Linked DNA regions of Homo sapiens: region 2 is linked to region 1. The links come from fine-mapping of genetic effects on gene expression. A gene starts in region 1. The other region holds a variant in brackets. All regions are shown on one strand. Distances are from middle to middle.

What was found. PIP is the estimated chance that this variant, and not a neighbour inherited with it, causes the effect.
Region 2: its variant is fine-mapped to the expression of GPR18 in whole blood (TOPMed, PIP above 0.99).

What each region holds. Positions count from the first base shown.
Region 1 is chr13:99,253,121-99,263,969 of GRCh38, reverse strand. GPR18 (G protein-coupled receptor 18) reads left to right here and starts at 5,591. Exons shown (of 2, transcript NM_001098200.2): 1 at 5,591-5,816; 2 at 8,064-9,231. The coding sequence starts at 8,098. The coding sequence ends at 9,093. The region is part of intron 4 of UBAC2 (UBA domain containing 2); the gene reads right to left. It overlaps LOC124903198 (a long non-coding RNA gene), which reads left to right and starts at 2,266. Exons shown (of 3, transcript XR_007063846.1): 1 at 2,266-2,347; 2 at 3,722-3,831; 3 at 5,384-5,531. RefSeq lists a silencer at 1,449-1,671.
Region 2 is chr13:99,277,337-99,288,185 of GRCh38, reverse strand. The region is part of intron 4 of UBAC2 (UBA domain containing 2); the gene reads right to left. Among named protein-coding and RNA genes, the nearest start is that of GPR18, 24 kb to the right of the region's middle. The variant A/CA (reference allele first, on the strand shown) is at 5,961.

The DNA.
Region 1 (10,849 bases):
AAGCATGAAATCCTAAGCACTGTATTTTCATTTCATCTGCTTTTTGAAATTTATACAAATGGAATCATATGATATGAATTCCTTCATGTCTGGCTTTTTCAACTTAACACTAGATTCATGAGATTCATCCATGTTGTTCTATCTGCCCTGTGTATCATCAATTGTGATTGTGACTTGCACTCCACTCTATGCCTACACCACAAGTGACTTATTCATGCTATAGTTGAACATTCAGGTTGTTCCTAATTTGGAGTTGTTGTAAATAATGTTACCGTGAACATTCTTGTCCATGTCTCCTGGTACGCAGCATGTGTTTTTACTGGTTATAGACCTAGGAGTGGACTCTGAGTCATGGAGTGTTGGTATCTTCATTTTAATACTTAAACTGTTTTCCATATTTAAACTCCCACCAGCAATGTTCCTTGTTACTCGATACCCTCATCACTCAACATCCTTGCCAGCACTTTGCACTGTCCGTCTTTTTCATCGTAGGCATTCTGGCGAATGGATAATACCCTGCTGTGGTTTTAATTTTCATTTTCCCAATTATTAATAAAAAGTTGAGCAGATTTACATGTTGCTGACCATTTGGATCTACTCATTCTTAAGTGCTTGTTCAAGTCTTTTGGCCATGGAATGGCAGAGATCCCAGACACCACAATTACATGTACGAGCTGCCAGGATCCAGCTATAAAACCTTTCCTTGAGAATATCAACTCATTAGCAAGAAACAGGGAGATAAAAAGATGGTCTATTCCCTCAGGAGATTGTTTGCTATAAGTCAAATTACCATTTATGATGATTCTCTATTAAGTAGGGCCAACTTCAACAAAAATTACTAAAACGAAGTATAATATTATAATGCAAAATACAGAAAGAACATACAATCTGAGAGTCATGAGTAAATATTTCTGGGTCACACCATGTAAACTACATACTTTGCAGTCAGCATGAAGGTTAAGTTAGCTCAAGCATGTGAGGCTCTCAGAATCATGCCTGACAGTCACCTCTGATTACCTTTCATAATTTAGTTAAGAATAATGGCAGATATAATAAAAAATCCTAAGTAACTTGTCTTAAACCAACAACCCTCAACCTTATAGATACATGTTTACTTTTACTATACAAATGGCTGTGTACTAAAATCCTCAACCACACACACTATTATATAGGTTTATGTTTAAATAACCTGATAACACATCTCTTGTTCCTTTACCTTCCACAAGTCCTTTTTTTTTTTTTTTTTTTTTTTTTTTTTTGAGAGGGAGTTCTGCTCTGTTGCCCAGGCTGGAGTTCAGCCTCAGCTCACTGCATTCTTGGCTCACTGCAACCTCCATCTCCCGGGTTCAAGCGATTCTCCTGCCTCAGCCTCCTGAGTAGCTGGGATTATAGGCACGCACCACCATGCCCAGCTAATTTTTGTATTTTTAGTAGAGACAGGGTTTTGCCATGTTGGCCAGGCTAGTCTCGAACTCCTGACCTCAGGTGATCCACCCGCCTCAGCCTCCCAAAGTGCTGGGATTACAGGCATGAGCCACCGTGCCCAGCCCTCCTCTTTCTTCTGAAATGCACTTCCTCATATTACTAGGTGTTAACTATACAGTGGTTCCCCCTTATTCTCAGAGGATACATTCCAAGACCCCCAGTGGATGCCTGAAACTGCAGATAGTACCAAACCCTATACTTACTATTTTTTTCCTGTACATACATACCTATGATAAAGTTTAACTTATACATTAGGCTCAGTACCTTTGTGTTTTGGGACCATTATTAATTAAATAAGGGTTACTGGAACACAAGCACTGTGACACTGTGACAGTAAACCTGATCACCAAGGTGGCTATGAAAGTGACTAATGAGTGGGAATGTCTACAGTGTGGAGACACTGGGCAAAGGGAGGACTCATGTCCTGGGGAGGAAGGAGCGGGACAGTGAGAGATTTCATCCTGCTGCTCAGAATGGCATGCAACAGAAAACTTATGAATTGTTTATTTCTGGAATTTTTCCATTTAATATTTTCAGACCATATTTGACTGAAGGTAACTGAAGGTAACTGAAGCCTCAGACAGCAAAATTGCGGATAAGGGGACTACTGTATACCCATCTCCATTTGCACCTCTGGTAACTGTGAGATCAGAATGTGCAGCAGAAGGCTGTGTGCCTCACAATAACCATGGAGTTCTGCTCAATCTGCTGCCTTGGCGACTCTGGATCTCTCTTCCAATAGTAAAATGTCACACTGCAAACTCTGGGCCTGGGGTCCCATGGGACTTCAGTGGTTCCAGGACTGATTTCACTGCCATCACTTATATATGGTTAGATATGGATTCAACTTGTTTGCTGTGAGGTTAAGTGTCTGAATGTCTACATGTCTATACATCTTTAAAACTACACACAAAAATTGCTAAAGACAAGAAATTTGGGAATATTAAATTTACAATACAATTTAGGAAACCAAACAGAAAGGAGGTATACTAACTGGGTTAGAAGATTATAGCTGTAAATTGTTGGGACTTAAGAAAAACCACACATTTAGACAAATAGTTTCTCAATCTTCTTTATGCAGAAACTCTTACTATTCAACATATCTCCCCTACACCCACACCCAAAGAGCAGTCAGTTTAGATACAAGTTTGAGAAACAGAAAGGAGGGGACAAAGGTTGGAGGATGTCAAGGCCAAAGGATAGGCCTCTCCTCTAGTTCAGAGGACTCTTTGTCTGCCTCACACCCTCTTCTCCCTGGGGACTGGCTGTGTGCTGACTGTCCCCCTGCTGGGATACATGAACAGTAACAACAGTGGACCCCTGGTCCCCGCACTGATGGGAGGCAACAAGGATAAGCTGCCCTCACACTTGCTATGCTAACAGAACAGGAAATATTATTTTACCTGTGGCATAGACAAATGTCTAACATAGAAGCATATTTTATAGTGGGAATTTGCTATACAGATCTATTAACTACATTCTTTCTCATTAAAAACTGGCTTAACTGAATTATATTCACTCAAAAACTGGTTTATAGGGCTAAAATCAAAATTCACTTATGGCTTTTAATATCAAAACCAAAACCCAAAACTGCAGCTAAAACACACTATTTGATAAAGCAAAGGGAATCTTGCAGTCTCTGGGAATAAGTAAAATCCCTCTTTTGCAAGTGAAACATTTCTCCTTCACTCATATTCCAAAGTAAGTGAAGAAATTAAAGCTGCATGAATGGTCCCTGAATAAGTTCCTCTGTTTGGGGAAAAAAAAAAATTCATTAGGTTCAAGTATTAAAGAAACTTGTGTCTACATTATACAAGTTGAATCCTTGACCCATTGTTTACTTGCTGTCAAATGACTGGGCAGTTTCTTTTCACTATAATTCCCTGCCAACACAAAACCATCGCGAAGATCCAGGAGCACAGCGAACGGGGGTCAATGCTATAGGGCTCATGGGTTGCAGGGGAGGACGACAGACCTCAGGCCCTTGCCTAAGTCTCCCCATCTCATAAGCTGGTCAAAGTGTCCCTGCCTGCTGACTCAAGGCCCAGACATTTATCCATTCCTCCCCCAACCTCTCCATTTCTTCACCTACTTGTTCAGTCAGAAATTCAACCAATATTAAATGCCTCTTCTCTACACACATATGCAACACATGCCAACTCTCAAGGAATGCAATTTAGTGGAGGAGAAAAAGCAAGTAAATATGCAGTAACAATGCAAACATGTGCCACTACAGGGATAGGTACCAAGTGCTAAGGAAACCTGCAGGGATGAACAACCAGCCCAGCTTCGGAGGGCAGAGAAACCAGCCCAGCTTCGGATGGCAGAGAAAGCTTCCTGAAAAAGGTAGCTACAAGAACAAAGAGCAGCAGGCCATGCCATCAGGTGGGAGACAGTGGTGAGGAATGCCACAGTGGGTGGAACAGCATGTGAGAGGCAGGAAGAGCAAATGTAGCCAGTCCAGAGGGCTGGAATGGAGAGCAAGATGAGGAAAAAGTGAGAGCTCACCCCAACCTGAAGCCAGGCCTATGGAGAGCCCTCAGGTGCTCCTGGATGCCTCCTCTAAGAGTCTGGCAATTCAGAAACAAGAATGCCCCTGTGCACCGTGAAGAATTCAAGTCTTGATGAAAGGACTCTTCTAGACACATGCCATCAATGTATCTGTTGATTTTAGCAGCAATGGGGAAGCTAATCAATACTTAATTTTAGAAAAGTCCTAAGCTATGTGAATAAGGCAAAGGACAGATTAGGTCTGCATGCAGGCAGATTTCTGTCCAGCTGAAACATCAAACTCCTGTGTGATGAATGAAATATAACATCACATATAAAAAACTGATGAATGTGATTCAGCCATAAGAAGTCCTATCTAGTGGACAGATCAATATAATTACCTCATAAGAAGTTATTACAGCGGGAGAAACTGGACCTGGCTTTACCTTGAGTTCTTAAGCAAGTAACTGGCCTTCAATTTCTTCATCCACACAAGAAATAGTTGCTATGGTTGTCTCCAACACTTCTAAAACCCATCATTCTGGCAGGTTGTAACAATCAAAAGTATTTTATCACCAAAGGCAAGGATTTAAGTAACTTTTCTAAGCCACAGATTTACTATGGTTTTGTCTGAGAAAAAAAAAAAAAAGGATGGACCCCAAACTGTCTAAAATTCAAAAAAACAAATACATTTAAGTTCATGAACCCTTTAAAAAGTTGACAAACCATGCATAACCAAACATAAAGATAATTAAAATTTTAGGATAAGCAAATGAGAGATAATTTTTTTTAAGAAATGAGAAAGTAAAACAAAATTAACCTAACAAGGCAGGCAGCGATTCGTTGCTCACTTCCCTTTCTGCTGGTTTCATTTCCCTTCTTAGGTGAAAACACTCTTAATATGTAAATCAGTCCACTAAAGACTTCAGAGTCCTTTCTGCTAAGATTTGCAGAAATTTTTATGCAAAAGAAATTATTTCTAGACTTCCACGCACTAGAAAAGCAGACTTACAAAATACAGCAAACTAAAGTGGATAAATGTATGTGGCAAAGCAGAAGCAATTAATCAAGGATCCTACTTTTAAGCATTTAGAAATGTTTAAATAGTAAAAAGTGGAAATGTGGATATTCTATGATTTTTAATAACTTGGTAGTAAAAAGTGAGACTCCATTTAGGAGTACCTACTAAGTGCCAGGTACTATTAAGCACTTGGGATCTTTCTGGTTTAGGGCCCCTACAATCCTACTGGATATAGTATTATCTCTATTTCAACTGTACAGAAATGAAGTAGGAACAAAGGGTTAGTCAGAGTGGGTAGGTAACTAGACAAAGTCACATAGCTTATAAAGCAAAGAAGCTAGACTTTAAACCCCCTTTTACTCAATATCAAATCTTCTCTTTCCATAGATGATGCAGACTTCAAGCATCAAAGTACACAAACTGAAGAAACTTTATCCTTTGTATATAATTATCTTAAATATATGCCATCATTTCAAGGGGAGCTTATGCTAAGTGTGACTTCATAAACAAATCATTTGTGAAAGAGAAAAACCACATCCAGGGTAAAGTCATAAGGTGAAAAAGCCTATTTCAGAGAGCACTTCCTGAAAGAGACAAAGCAGCAATTAAAGTCAGCCCAGCACCAACTCCGACGCCAAGCGTTACACTGGAAACTACTTTTTAAAGCAACAAAAGAGTCTAAAACAAAATACAACATTTCTTAAATACACTGTTTCCAGAAAGAGCTATTTTAACAGAAGCAACTCAAAGATATCCCTTCGACAGAAGTGGAAGTGCTGAAAAATGCTCATCTCTCACACAGACTTTTGATGGACAGGAGGTAAGCAGCATTTAATTAACTTCATGATTATTGTCAAAAGTAATGCTTTATGTACTGCATTTCAAAAATCATTTCATTTTAATAATACAGGCTGGGCGCAATGGCCCACGCCTGTAACTCCAACACTTTGGGAGGCCAAGGCAGGAGGATCAGTTGTGCCCAGGAGCACCATAGTGAGACCCCGTCTCTATTAAAAAAATATATTTAATTAAAAAAATAAACATAACAAACTATGTTGGTGAAAGACCTTGAAATAGGCTATATAATCATCTTTCCACATTAATATGATTTTACATTTATTTTCAATATTGCTTTACATTAATACTAAATGTAATTTTTTTCAACTTAAGGAAAGAAAATGTTTATGGTAAATCATATGTATATTTAGGAATGTTCATCACATGTTTTCAATTACATTGTTTCATGAAATAACTTAATGGTTTTTAAGAAAAGAAAAGCTACAGATAATCATGGTATCTATAGCTTTTAAAAAGCTGACTTTAAAGTCAATCACTTTTCAATATTTATCCAAAAATTTCTGTGTTTGCAGAGCACAATCAATACTATAATGCCTTTAAAACACATGCATCACTCATTTTTTTTCAAACGTCAGCAAATGAATATAAGTATTGGTGACAAGCTACATAAAAACAGCTTGAGCATAACGTGGGAAAAAAGACTCAAGATGGTTTGTAAGTACAGGACTTATGTCACAAAATTGAAGGATGAGGATAGGTGAAGGGAGTCCTGATGCAATACTAAAAAAAGAAAAACAAATACAAAATTTCATTTATATTATAATTGCTACTATTTAATAAGAATGCATTCCAGTTAAAAATAAGATTTAAGCCTCCAAGATTACTCTCCTTTGAATGACACTAGAGATATAATTTTTCTCTGTAGCACTTTCCTCATTTGATAGAAATTAATATTCTAGTCACACCAATATTTGGAAAATTTAATATGTTTTTAAATATATAGAATTATGCTCCTAAATCATATTTAACCTAAATATTTGAGAAGGAAAGAAGGAGAAGAAGGGAAGAAAGGGAAGGGAAGGGAAGGGAAAGGAAGGAAGGCAGACAGGCACGTTTCTTGTGTTTAACCACAGCAATTGCTCAAGTTAATTCTTAATTATCAATAGCCCGTGATGCCACTGACCACAGACAGCAAATCTCCCCCATAGTTTTCCTTAAAGAGAAATTCTGGGCTGATTTCAAGACAGCCCACTCTGCAAAGTGACATTTTTGAAGGAAACTTTTCATCCACCTCCATATTACAAGGGGATGCCACAGATTCCATCTCATTGCAGCAAAGTCTATTTTTGAAGTCTGTTGTTGGTGTTGCATCATGGGGGAATGAAGTTTCACACTGAGGAGTCAATGATATTTGCAACCCCAAATAACCTCCTTTCCATTTAAAATGGACGGTTTTTTTTTTTTTGGTGATGGAAATTTATAAGTTTCTACATACACATCAAGTTACTGAATGACTTCTTATTAATATCTACTTGTCTTAGATACTCCTTTTTTGGATTTACTTTGAAAATTGTTAAAATTTAAATAATATTGAAGCTTCTGAATCTAGATGGAATGAGGATATGAAAGTTACTAACGGCACTAGCTTTTTTCAAGGTGCTGCTTTCTGTGAACCACTGAAGTAGAGCAGCTGAAATCACAAAACCTGGAAGACTTGGCTTTACGTACTCCCAATTGTGCACTAGAAAACAGCTCATCTATTGCTCTAACAGTCTAGTTCTTGATCTGCTGACCATGACACAAAACATTGCTGTTTCTCAACCTATGATAATTTAAAGAGAACATAAGGTAATAAATATTATGAAGTGTTTCCACTTTAAAAAAAACAAAAAGTTTAATAGCCAGCTACACAAGTCTTCATTTTCAAACTAGAGAATTACAAACTAGAGTTTTTTAGCAAAGTAGAGTTGCTGTGAATCATCTCATCAAAAGTTCCTTCATTTATTCATCAATTCAGTAAATATTTATTTATTGAGTACCTATTACATGCTCAATAGACAGTGGGGCTATAGCTGTAACAAAGGAAAAGTTCCCATTCTCTCTCAAATGAGAATTACTGTGAATGTTCAGTAGTTAACCAGTTGAATCGTTCCTTGATTAAATGCTCTCGAACTTAAAATTCACTGGCAGTCAAGCTGAGTGGGAGAATGTTAAGCATTTATTTTTTAACCAACGATTTTATTCTTATTTTTCTTAACTATTTTTACAGTTTCTAAGTATCATGCCTACCAACAAGCTGTAAAATGATCACCCTGAACAATCAAGATCAACCTGTCCCTTTTAACAGCTCACATCCAGATGAATACAAAATTGCAGCCCTTGTCTTCTATAGCTGTATCTTCATAATTGGATTATTTGTTAACATCACTGCATTATGGGTTTTCAGTTGTACCACCAAGAAGAGAACCACGGTAACCATCTATATGATGAATGTGGCATTAGTGGACTTGATATTTATAATGACTTTACCCTTTCGAATGTTTTATTATGCAAAAGATGAATGGCCATTTGGAGAGTACTTCTGCCAGATTCTTGGAGCTCTCACAGTGTTTTACCCAAGCATTGCTTTATGGCTTCTTGCCTTTATTAGTGCTGACAGATACATGGCCATTGTACAGCCGAAGTACGCCAAAGAACTTAAAAACACGTGCAAAGCCGTGCTGGCGTGTGTGGGAGTCTGGATAATGACCCTGACCACGACCACCCCTCTGCTACTGCTCTATAAAGACCCAGATAAAGACTCCACTCCCGCCACCTGCCTCAAGATTTCTGACATCATCTATCTAAAAGCTGTGAACGTGCTGAACCTCACTCGACTGACATTTTTTTTCTTGATTCCTTTGTTCATCATGATTGGGTGCTACTTGGTCATTATTCATAATCTCCTTCACGGCAGGACGTCTAAGCTGAAACCCAAAGTCAAGGAGAAGTCCATAAGGATCATCATCACGCTGCTGGTGCAGGTGCTCGTCTGCTTTATGCCCTTCCACATCTGTTTCGCTTTCCTGATGCTGGGAACGGGGGAGAACAGTTACAATCCCTGGGGAGCCTTTACCACCTTCCTCATGAACCTCAGCACGTGTCTGGATGTGATTCTCTACTACATCGTTTCAAAACAATTTCAGGCTCGAGTCATTAGTGTCATGCTATACCGTAATTACCTTCGAAGCATGCGCAGAAAAAGTTTCCGATCTGGTAGTCTACGGTCACTAAGCAATATAAACAGTGAAATGTTATGAATAATAAGGTTCTTTCATTTCAATCCCATCAAAATTCACTTCACTAACTACTCTGGCGTCAATGGATATTCTGTATAATACTATCAAGTCCCTTTTCTCTTGAAAAAATAAATTCATTATCTTCATTTTAAAAACTTATATAAAACATTTTTGTGAATTATTCAGAGAAAAGCATCTGATTTTTCTTTCCTAGTCAAGCCTTGTTCACACAGATAATTAACTTTTTGCATTTCTATGTGCAAGCGACACATGTGTGTTAATCAAGTCAGTAGGGGGGAAATCGAGCTACCATACAAAATAATTTGATTAAATTATTTTCTATCTAGATGCAGCTCCCTTAGGTCTAATTTGCACTAGGAATGGAATTATAAATCCAATACTTTATGTCCCAAACACTGACTTCCAGAATTCCTATATAAGAAATTATGTTGAACTCATTACTGTTACTTACTACAAGGCAAAATTAATAGCAACAAGAACCCAAGGGGCCTGTTACAGCCATCCCCATCAGCCCTTCCCTACTCTGAATTCATTCTTTTAAAAACAGAGAATAGTCATTCAACAAACACTGAGAGCCTACTATGCACCAAACCCTATTTAGGACTAATGATGAAAATCTAACCTGAGATGCTATTTCTATCCAATAATCCAAGTTCATTTCTATCATTTGAGGTTTCTACTATATGGTGAAATGCCATTCTCCAATACAAACAGTTTGCTCTTCTTATGTGGTTGAAGATACCATTTTTACAAAAGAAGTTAATTGATTTTTTTTCCCAGGCCATATGTCACAGTATAAATAGTACTAGTAGGAACCTTGGATTTCTTAGCCTTGCCATTTAATTTCTCCTAATAAAGTAACAAACCAAGTAACTTATCCATCTAAAAGAAAAAAACTGAACTATAATCTGTAAAGCCCCTATTATCCTGAATACTTATGGAAGTAAAATAAATGATTCAACTATAACTTCCTCTCTGCTAAATTACCTTTATCACTCTTAACATGATCATATCCTACTGGGGCTTAGAACCAAATACATGCATTGGTTAGAAATTTATTTCTGGCTGGGCGTGGTGGCTCACGCCTGTAATCCCAGCACTTTGGGAGGCTGAGGTGGACGGATCACTTGAGGTCAGGAGTTCGAGACCAGCCTGGCCAATATGGTGAAACCTCATCTCTACTAAAAATACAAAAATTAGCCAGGCATGATGGCAGGTTCCTGTAATCCCAGCTACTCGGGAAGCTGAGGCAGGAGAATAGCTTGAACCCAGGAGGCGGAGGCTGCAGTGAGCCGAGATTGCGCCATTGCACTCCAGCCTGGGTGACAAAGCGAGACTCCGTCTCAAAAAAAAAAGAAATTAATTTCTGGAAATAACATAGGTAAATTCATATTCCTTAAAAAAAAAGATAAACACAAAAAGTCTAATAATAAAATGGCATTTTTGCACTAGAAGGTCCCTTAGACAATCTTCTTAGTACAATTCTTCTGTTCGAAATATAAAAAACTGAGGTCTGAAGAGGTTATGTGACTTGCTCAGCTCAAGAACCACACCTAGAAACCAAGGTCAGTTCTTTCATGTCAAACACCAATTTTTCAATAATAAAAAGCAAACATGCTTAAAGAATGTAAACATTCTCAGAGCTACATAAGGTGGTACTGAGATGCAGTTTCTCAATAAAGAGAAAAACACAGTTTTTAGTTTCAATAGTCAAATGAGTAAAATATATATATTTTTATATTTTATATACATAAAG
Region 2 (10,849 bases), 24 kb before region 1:
CCAGGCAGATTTTGAGAAGAAAAAAGTGTGTCAGAATGAAACTACATGGAGGCTACAAAAGGTTTGAGACCTAATCTAAAAAAAGTAACATTTTGATACGTTCTTATTGCTTGAGGGCAGCAGTCCCACAATTTTCCCATCAAGTCCTGGCATGAAGTATCAAATTTTTTGGCAGGGGCTACATAGTAAAAATGTATAAGGTTACTGCCTATATTAGCCTATAAAAATAAATGCAAACAGTATGTTTTAGCATATCATATATTATATGTTCAAGAGAGTAATGAAAGTATATGCAAGTGCCATTTCATGTATTATTGCTTATTATTTTCCCCAGTAAGGGAGCAAGGGCAAGAAGGTCCTAAAGTTGAACATTATTGGTTTGTTAAAAGAACAGCAGTTAAGGCTGCACGTGGTGGCTCACGCCTATAATCCCAGCACTTTGGCAGGCTGAGACAGGAGGCTCACTTGAGCCCAGGAATTGGAGATCAGCCTGGGCAACATGGCGAAACCTCGTCTCTACCAAAAAAAAAAAAAAAAAAAAAGAAAGAAAAAAAAAAGAAGAAAGAAAGATATTTTTCCTTACTCTTGTTACAACATGGGGTGGAGGCAGAAGTTCAGGGATGGGTTCAGAAAGAACTGAGGCTGGTGTGGGAGAATCACCTGAGCTCAGCAAGTCAAGGCTGCAGTTAGTCATGATCGTGCCACTGCACTTCAGCCTGGGTGAGAGTGAGACCCTGTCTCAAAATTTAAAAAAAAAAGAACAGCAGTTAAGAAGACGACATTATCAAAACAGACCCACAGGCCTGATACACATGTGACAAGAGATCAAGGCAATCCTGGTTCTCAGTCCCAACAATCTCCTATGAGCTCTACTTGAAACCTGGTACCTGCCTGTGCCTGCACCTGACACTCAGGCCTCTGGGGAGGCCCGTAGAGATACTGGCAAATCTGAGGCAAGGGCAGGGTTGAGGGACACTGCAGGCTAACACCATGCAGATTTTAGGAACCACATGGTAAAATGAAAAATGGAAACCAGTGTCCCATTAGGGATCCAACTGTCAAATTATTTGAAGTTTGTGTGTTTGAAAAAATGATTAAAAGGTGATGGGTACATGGTAGTCATTATACCATTCTCTCTGTATTTATGTATATTTGAAAATTTCTGTAATAAATTTCTAAAAATGGTAAGTATGTTCTCTAACACATGCCCTTACTCTTGTTACATCGGGGGTAGAGGCAGAAATTCAGGGATGGATTCAGAAAGAACTGAGACACAGTTACCAGTCTCCATCTCCAATCAGTTAAGCACAGCAATTCAAATCATAGGAGAATGGGACGCGCACTGGCCACATTCTAAGGTTACATGTGAGGGGAGTCTCAGCAGACCTTCAAGGAGTCCTAAGAATAACGTGGCAACAGCAAACTAAATTCTGCATGTTTGTACGTATAAGTGGGAGCTAAACATTGAATACACATGGACACGAAGATAGGAACAACAGAATAGACACTGGGGACTGCTTGTTGGGGGAGTGTGGGGTGATGGAGGTTGAAAAGCCACATATGGGGTACTATGGTCACTACCTGGGTGATGGGCTCATTTGTACCCCAAGCCTGAGTGACACACAATTTACCCATGTAATAAACCTGCATATGTACCCCCCGAACCTAAAAGTGGGAAAAAAATTAAAAATAAATAAATATTAAAAAAAAGAAGTCCTAATAAGAGATGGCTGGTGGTAACAAAGTCACCAGCAAAGAATAGGTTATACCAGAAAGCCACATGAAAAGATCAGCAAGGCTTCATAAACACACACACAATGTTCTTTGAGGAACTTGATCTCCTAACACAAAGGACCACAAGGAAGAACTATGTCCCAGTTCAAATCTAAATGTTTCAGATCCAGGTATGTTGCTTTGTATATATACATTTGAAGTCAAATATAAATGTTACATTCTTTTGATTAGCAGTTCTGTCAGCCAAGGTTCAGTTATAGATAACAGAAATCTTGTCAGCTATTTTGGGCAGCAGATTTAGTACACAGAATTCGGTGCTTATACAATTGCTGAAAAGGCTAGAAGGCCAGATCCAGCGCCTCCAGGAATAGACTCCTGGAACACATAAGGACTGGTCTACCAGGAGAACTGTTTCCTCTGACACACTGAGGCAGCTGGGAAATCACAAAAGTTAATTACATCAACTGTGAGCTCCAAGGTCAAACCACTTTGGCAGAGTCTAGGGATCAGGGAGTTTCAGGGAGTTGAACTGTGAACTCTGGCACCCCGTTGGATGTGTAGAACTGCACCAGGAAAATGGCTATCTCATATGCCTTGGCTCATACTGAATTCAAGAGCCACACGTTTTTCTGAATAATGGAACCTAAATCATATCCAGAACTCCAGGCAAGGGAGTTTAAGAAATAGAGCATTCAGCTTTCCAACCTCTGCTTTATGGGAAGTACACTAGGAGAACCCTGGAACAGATAATGAGCCAGCTGGCCGGGCATGGTGGCTCATGCCTATAATCCCAACACTCTGGGAGGCCAAGGCAGGAGGGTCACTTGAGGCCAGGAGTTTGAGACCAGCCTGGGCAACATAACGAGACGTTGTCTCTATAAAAAATTAAGAATTAGCTGGGCGTGGTGGCACATGCCTGTAGTCCTAGCTACTCAGGAGGCTAAGGCAGGAGGATCCCTTGAGCCCAGAAGTTTGACGTTACAGTGAGCTACAATCGCACCACTGCACTCCAGCCTGGGTGACAGAGCAAGACAATTGTCTCTTAAAAAAAAAAAAAAGAAGAAAGGTAATAATAAATAATGAGCCAGTTAATCTAGTATACCCACCATACCATTCTAATAAAGTACAAAAATACTCTACCAAAGGGAGGAAGAAGAGGAGGAAGAGGAGGAGCAGGAGGAGCAGCAGCAGCAGCAGCAGCTACTTAAGACACACCACAATCGAATGCAAAAGCAAATGTAAAAGGGCATTTCCAAGCTAATAGGATAAATGTGGAAACAGTAGTTTCAGTAGTAAATAATATTACAGAATTATGAATAATTTTGTTAGGTAAGGTAACATTATGGTTATATAAGAAATGCCATTTTAGAGCTTTCTGAAATATGAAATATGATATTATGATGTCTGGAAATTGCTTCAAAATACTTTTAAAATGCCAGGGAATGGAAAGAGGATAGCAAAAATGTTAATTACTGAATCTGGGTAATAGGGCTCATTTTATTCTCTCTGCTTGTGTCACTGAAATTTTTCATGAAAAAGTTATAAAATGTTATTCCAAGAGAAATACGAAAACTACACATTATTTTCATCTACTGCTTCACCTTCACAAACTTTAATTTTCCAGCAGCCTTAGAATATGTATCGTTTTCTGTAAGTCCTGGCTTACAGTCTTCAAAAATGCCAAGGTCGCCCAAGACAGACTGAGGAACAGTCCGGATTAAACAGTAAGGGGATGTACCAATGAAATGCAACATGTAATACTGAACCAGACGATGGACTAGAATTTTGATTTTCCTTTTTGCCATAAAGGACATTATTTGGACAATTGCCAGATGTGAATAAAGTAATACATACTCATGGTATTTTGGAGTCAAAGGGACATTATGTCTACAACTTGCTTTCAAATGATTCAGAAAAAATACTGTGTAGAGAGAAAATGATAACAGCAAATGCGGAAAATGTTAATAACGGGGGCATCTGGTTTTAGGGTATATGGGAGTTCTTTGTTTTATCCTTGCAACTTTTCTATAAACCAGAACTATTTTAAAATTTTCAAAAAGTATAAAACATAAGTGGCAGCATTTGGTAGCTACTGAAAAGAAACAGCAGTTTCTTCAGTCTATTAAATGAAAATACAAGTAATAGCTAAATAACTGGAGTGTCATATAGTGCTTCTTCAGGCCCCATTCATGGGGGCACTTCCCCCCAATTGGAACTTTTTTTCTTTGCATTGTGTGTTTATTTGTACTTCTTATTTTAGCAGCAAAGTTTGAATACAATCATATAAGTTGTCTTTGGACATTTACATTGCTAAAGTTGAAATACACAGCCTCAGTCTGGCAAGTTAAAATGCTCAAGTTGCTTCCTGCTATAGTGACCATTAACTAGACTGTTTTACCTTTAAAAATAAAGTGGCATTGGCCAGGCGTGGTGGCTCACGCCTGTTATCCCAGCACTTTGGGAGGCCAAGGCAGACAGATCACGAGGTCAGGAGTTTGAGACCAGCCTGACCTACATGGTGAAACACCGTCTCTATTAAAAATACAAAAATTAGCTGGGCGTGGTGGCACACGCCTGTAATTTCAGCTACTCAGGAGGCTGAGGCAGGAGAATAGCTTGAACCCGGGAGGCAGAGGCTGCAGTGAGCCGAGATAGCACCACTGCACTCTGGCCTGGGTAAAAGAGCAAGACTCAGTCTCAAAAAAAAAAAAAAAAAAAAAAAAAAAAAAAAAAAAAAAGGTGGCATTAAGGCATTAAGGAAATGTCTGAGCCACAATTCAGACAGGCATGAGTTTCCATCCAGGCTTGCCACTTAAGTAGCCGTCACTTAGTGACTCAATCCTCAGACCCTCAGCTTTCTCATGTAGAACACAGCAATAGCAACATCTACTCTTGCAAGTCTGCTTGTGGCTATTCATTTAAATCTGGCTATTCATTTAAATCAGGAACATATGTCAAACAAGGCTCTACGGTACAAAATTGTTCAATATAAATTTATTAAGATTTCTTAAGAGAAAGGGTAAATCCTGCTGTCAAAAAAAAATCTCCAAATGGAATGCGTAATGTTAACATTTCATAATGTTACTCCATATTTTTCCTTCATATTGTCACTGATATTAACAAACCTATCCTTGGTATTGTCATTTATTTATACAGCAAATAATTATCAAGTGTCTCTATGAACCAGCTGCTATTCTACACACTGGAATAACAGCTGAAAACCACACAGACCAAGTTGCTCTCTGAATCCTACATCCTAGAAGCCAATATTAAACATTAAGTAAGTAAACAAAATAATTTTAGGAGAGAGAACTGTAAAGTGTTGATTCTAGCTCTGGTGTACCCATGACTGATTATTTGCCTTCCTAAATATTCTCTGAGCTACTTTAATAAATTCCCTTTCTGCTGAATCAGCCAGAATTCATTCTATTACTTCAACTAACAATCCAGCCAAAACAGGGATGCCTATTCTCTTGTAACTGACAAAGCCTTTTTCCTTTAGTTCAGATAACAAAAGCACATTAGATTTCAAGCACATTAGATATTTCAGAACTCAACACATAACATATACCAAAAAATCCAACCCTAAGACAGGTATGAGATTATTTTTGTGTGCTGTATATTTTGCTATAGTTACCAAGACATGGTTAGCATTTTGAATTTTTTTTCTTAGAACAATACAATGATCTAAATCTAAAATCTTTCACAAGGTGCAACTTTCCAGTGATAAACAAGAACAGGAAGTGAATCTTGAATACAACCAGACTTCAAGTTCCCTTCACTATTAAAGTATCTCCTTTGCTGTCTGTTACCTGAGTCTCACTTAACCAGCGTTAAACTTCCATCATTCTAGCCCAACAGTTATAAATATCTTTATTTCTTTTTGAACAAAACATATTTCCTATTAGACTGGAAATTTTGACACACTCAAATGTTTGAAGTCCCAAGAGGAAGACAGCTAAAATAAAAGGAATTGAGCAGCAAAGCAACTCAGAAAAGCAGAAATGAAAACAGATGTTAAACCTCTTTAAAACAAATTTTTACTAATAGCCTCAACCAAAGCTATTTCAGTCAACTACTAGAAATATTCTACCTAGTCAAAAGTTCTCAACAAGCTTCCTAGGTCATGAGCTCCTCAAGGGTGTGGGCTAACTCTTTCCAGGGTTCTATCTACCACCCAGCATCATGCATGTCATGACTCTCCATCATGGGTGATTTTGCCCCCC[A/CA]AGTGTCATTTGGCATTATCTGGAGACATTTTTAGTTGTCATGACTGGGGTAAGACTGGGGAAAGGAGGTTTTGCTAACAGCATACACTGGGTGGAGGCCAGTGATGCTGCCAGCCACCCTGCAGTGCACGGGACCGCCCCCACCGCAAAGGGTTATGCAACTAAAATGTCAAAAGTGCTGAGGGTGAGGAAACTCTAGCTTAGGTCAATGATGCCACTGCCCTTCATGTTCAAATACAAAATCACTTATCATGTGGCTTCATGTAGACTTCTGGCAACAGCTTACACGCCCTTTTAAACTGGATACATTAGGTCTGCTCCCTGGTAAGACACTCTGGCCACTGAGACCGCAGTTTGAAATTCCTGCAGTGTTAAAAGCCTGAGTCTCCTTTCACAATTAGCCAGCAATCCATAAGGTAAGTACCTCTGCACGCCACTTTGATTCAGAAGGCACAGATCTTCAAACATTACTAAAATCTTGTTAAAATGATTGGCAATCTCAGTTCCTAATCAGTCCTCAGGCAATGTCAAGACATAAGTGAGACAAGAAAAGCCTCTTCCTCTTGTTATGTATCTTCTAACATCATGATTTTTCTTTTATCAATTTATAGAAAATAGCGCTGAAGGTTTCTGAGCCTGTTTCCTCAAAGTAGATGCGAGTTCTCACCTTCCAGGGCTGTTCTAAGGAGAGAAAGTGGCACACCTGCAGAGTGTCTGGGATGAGCCTGGCGTGTGCTTGCTGACTACCAAGGTGACATAGTACCAAGTACAATGCCGGACACATGGTATCCAACACCCAAATACTGAACTGAGCCCAAAGTGTGAGAACTTTTTGGTTGAGAAAGGAGATATCTTGTGAATATAAGAATGAATGGATTATATGCTTCTCTCTTAGGTAAGATGCTGGAAATGATTTTATAAGTCCACATTTCAATCCTTAAAAAAAAAAATCACTGAACCCAAATGTGAAATTCAACTTTTATACTTTTTTGTTGTTGCTGTTGTTTTTTTTTGTTTTGTTTTGTTTTGTTTTTTTTGAGATGGAGTCTCGCTCTGTCACCCAGGCTGGAGTACCATGGTGTGATCTCATCTCACTGCAACCTCCTCTGCCTCCTGGGTTCAAGCTATTCTCCTGCCTCAGCCTCCCAAGTAGCTGGGATTACAGGTGCCCGCCAACACACCTGGCTTATTTTTGTATTTTTAGCAGAGATGGAGTTTCACTATGTTGGCCACGCTGGTCTCAAACTCCTGACCTCAAGTGATCTGCCTGCCTCGGCCTCCCAAAGTGATGGGATTACAGGCGTGAGCCACCACGCCCAGCCTACATTTTTCTCTTAAGTAACAGATTTGAGGTAGCTTACTGAGTGAGAAAGAGAGAGAGAGAGAGAGAGAGAGGGAAAGAAGAAGGAAGGAAGAAGGGAGGGAAGGAAGAAAGGAAAAAGGACATTAGCAGAGACACAATAATTTAGTGCAAAAAAATAACTGAAGCAACTAGCATGTGGCAGACCGATCCCAGTCAGCTTTCTTTGTCCCTTTGGTATTAAAGAACACTCTTCACTACTCCATGCTGAGGGAGCTGTAAGAGAGAGTAAGATCCTGCTCTTTCAAAAGCATCCAGTTGAGAGAGTGGTCAATTAGGTAAATAATTACCATCTCAAGTAATGAATGTTTCACATAACTTACAAGCACAAAGTTAACTGGGAGCAAGAAGGAAGGAGAGGTTAATTCCAACTCTGGCTGGAGCAGGGTTTCGTGGAGCAGAGCTACCCAAGGGGACACTTGAAGTTCTCCTTGTTTTCTTGGTAGAAGTTTGTCAAGCAAAGGGGAGAAGGGATGTTGTAACCACAATTGTCGTAATAAATGAATCCAGAGAAATCTGTAATGATGTATGCGTGACAGGCAGTAGTGAGTAATGCAATTTAGCTGACATGCAGAGTACAAGGAAGGAATGACAGAAAATGAGGCTGGGAAGATTGGCTGGAGCTCTGAGGTGTGTCACAAGCAAGTTAAACTTTATAAAACAGCAGGAGGAAGCCATAGGAGATTTCTCAAGGTGTAAAGGAATAAGACCAGATCTCCTTTGTAGATAAAATTAGGGGAGTGGGGCAGTGCAGATGATGGCATTGAGATGGTGACAGGGAGAACAGTTAGGAGGCTACAGCAATAGTCCAAACCAAAGGAGATGAAATCAAAAGATCAAATACTTTTCATTAATCTATTTGCTCTATCAATCCATCCATCTCACAGTTGTGTCCACTATGTGGGAGCCACTATGCTAACCAAGTGCTATCAACTGAATGTTTCTGTCCTCTCCAAATTCACATGTTAAAATCCTAACCCCCAGTGTGATGCTCTTAGGAGGTGGGGCTTTTGAGTGGTGATTAGGTCATGAGGGTAGAGTCTTCACAAATAGGATTAGTGCCCTTATAAAAGGGAACCCATTGAACTCTCTGCTTTCTGCCATGTGAGGACACCACGAAAAGACAGCCCCAAACACCAAATCTGCCAGTGCCTTGATCCTGGACTTCTCAGCCTCCAGAACTGTGAGAAATAAATTTCGGTTGTTTATAAGTCACACAGTCTAGGGCATTTTGTTAGAGGAGCCTGAACAGGCTAAGGCAGTGAGGCATCATTAGTGAGACAAACTAACACAGTCTCCTCCTGGCACAAAGTCTGTATTCTAGTGGAGGTGGCAGGTATCAAATCATTTGTTACATCTTATTTACTATCTATAGTGATGAGTGCTATAAGAAAGAAAAATGTTCTAAGAAAGCATATCACAAGAGACTGTGACCTAGTCTGAGGGTGGGGGTAGTCAAAGACAGCTTCTGCAAAAAATTACCTTTAAGCTTCTCTTGAAACACTTGAATGGTGGCAGTTTATTCTCTCACATCCTTCATTCTAGATACAAATTTTGATCAACTTTTTATTAGTCAACTTTGCTCTGTGCAATCACATTCAAGCATTTAAGTATTTATTTACTAAAATCCCCGGTAGGGCTAACCAAACCAGTAGGTACTGTTGGGAGGGGAAGAGGAGTGGGGATCAGTGCAAAAGCAGGGGAGATAAAGGGGTAAGAAAAGGGGGAAAAGGAGAAAAGAGGTGGCAAGCCGAGAGGGAGGTGGGAAAAGGAAGGAGAAAGGGAACAGCTTAAAATCCAAAGGCTTTGGCTACACAACAGCAGACTAAAGTCTACTTTTCTCAGTATAAATACTGAGTAACTCATGAAGGAAAGTCAACATTCACACACATTTGTTATAATCAATACTCAGAAATATAATTCTCTGCAAACTGATGATCATGAGGAACCATAAGCCTGACAGTTTCTGTTGCTTTACCTTGACTTGGAGGCATGGCGGTTTTAGATTCAAGTGATGTAGGTTAAAATTTCAACTGAGTTATATGTTCCTGGACAGATTTCTTAGTCTCTCTAAAAATGTTTTCGTACCAGTAAAACAGATATAACCCTATCAACAAAGTTTATTTTTTAAATAGGAATTAAAGGAGAGAAGATATCTAAAATATCTATCCATTCAACTTATCTAATCTATTATTCCAAACATGTTAATGTGATCGCTTCAAATTTGGAGATCCAGGTAGTCCTATTTTTAGGTTGAGAAATATCACTTTTTTTCACTTTTAAAGACACTGATCATTTTTCAAGCTATGATGATTATTTATATGTTGGCTATTTAGCCCAAATTCAAAGCAGAGACACAATAATTTAGAAAGCTAACTGTCACTTATTGCTAACTTTGCCCACAATACCCACTTCCCTTAAAAATACTCCAACGGTTGCAATTCGAGATGACCACAGATGATTGTAGGTGTGCTGCTACTCTCTGACTAGCCCTCACCTCCAGACAGGCAATCCCTTCACGCGCCCGAGAAAGTGAATACCACTGCCTGGTACCAACTCTATTGCCACATGTATTAATAATGTGGTAACAGTTAATTAATAATAGCATAGCCCAAATGAAAGCCACACACAGGACTACAAATTTAAGAAAAATATTACATAAAATACCTATAATGGATTCTTTTAAATAGGTCTAAATAACCAAATTAATCCACAGAATAATGTTGGTGTCACCATCACAGCTATTTCTTAGCTTCCGAAATTATCTGTGCCTAGTCCTGGAAAGCTTTATCCTGTGCAATGCAAGAGGCAGAACTGGAAAACATGGAGAAGGTAAGACCTGTGCCCTACATTAATCTGCTCATCGAGAACAGCAGGAAAGGCCCTTCTATGGGGAGACCATGAGGAAATTTATCCTGCAGAAACTGGGTATCTGCAGATATTAGAAGAACGTTATGTTCCTACAGATGGATCCCGAGACTAAGCAAGTTCCCTCTTGCTCATTTACCACCACCCACCTCCAGATTAGAGGCTTGATGAGGCTTGCGGGTGGTGACAGAGGGGATGGGGCAAGAGTGCCTGAAATACTCAAAGCCCCAGTAAGTAGGCCCAGAAAGTGAGACAATAGAGCACAGTGATTACAAGGCCTATTTTATTTCAAGTAAGAGAGTGATGCTGGAGGATGACACAATGTAAAATGGCCTTAATAAAATGTCTGAATGATTGTAGAGGTAACTATCAATGGAGAAAAAAATGATTTCACAACTGCAAGTATTCTTAAAACACACACCTTTTTAAAAACCAATATTGCCTTTTATTTTATTTTATTTATTTATTTTTTGAGATGGAGTTTCCCTCTTGTTGCCCAGGCTGGAGTACAATGGTGTGATCTCGGCTCACTGTAACCTCCGCCTCCCAGGTTCAAGCGATTCTCCTGCCTCAGCCTCCCTAGTAGCTGGGATTACAGGCATGTGCCACCATGCTCGGCTAATTTTGTATTTTTAGTAGAGACGGGGTTTCTCCATGTTGG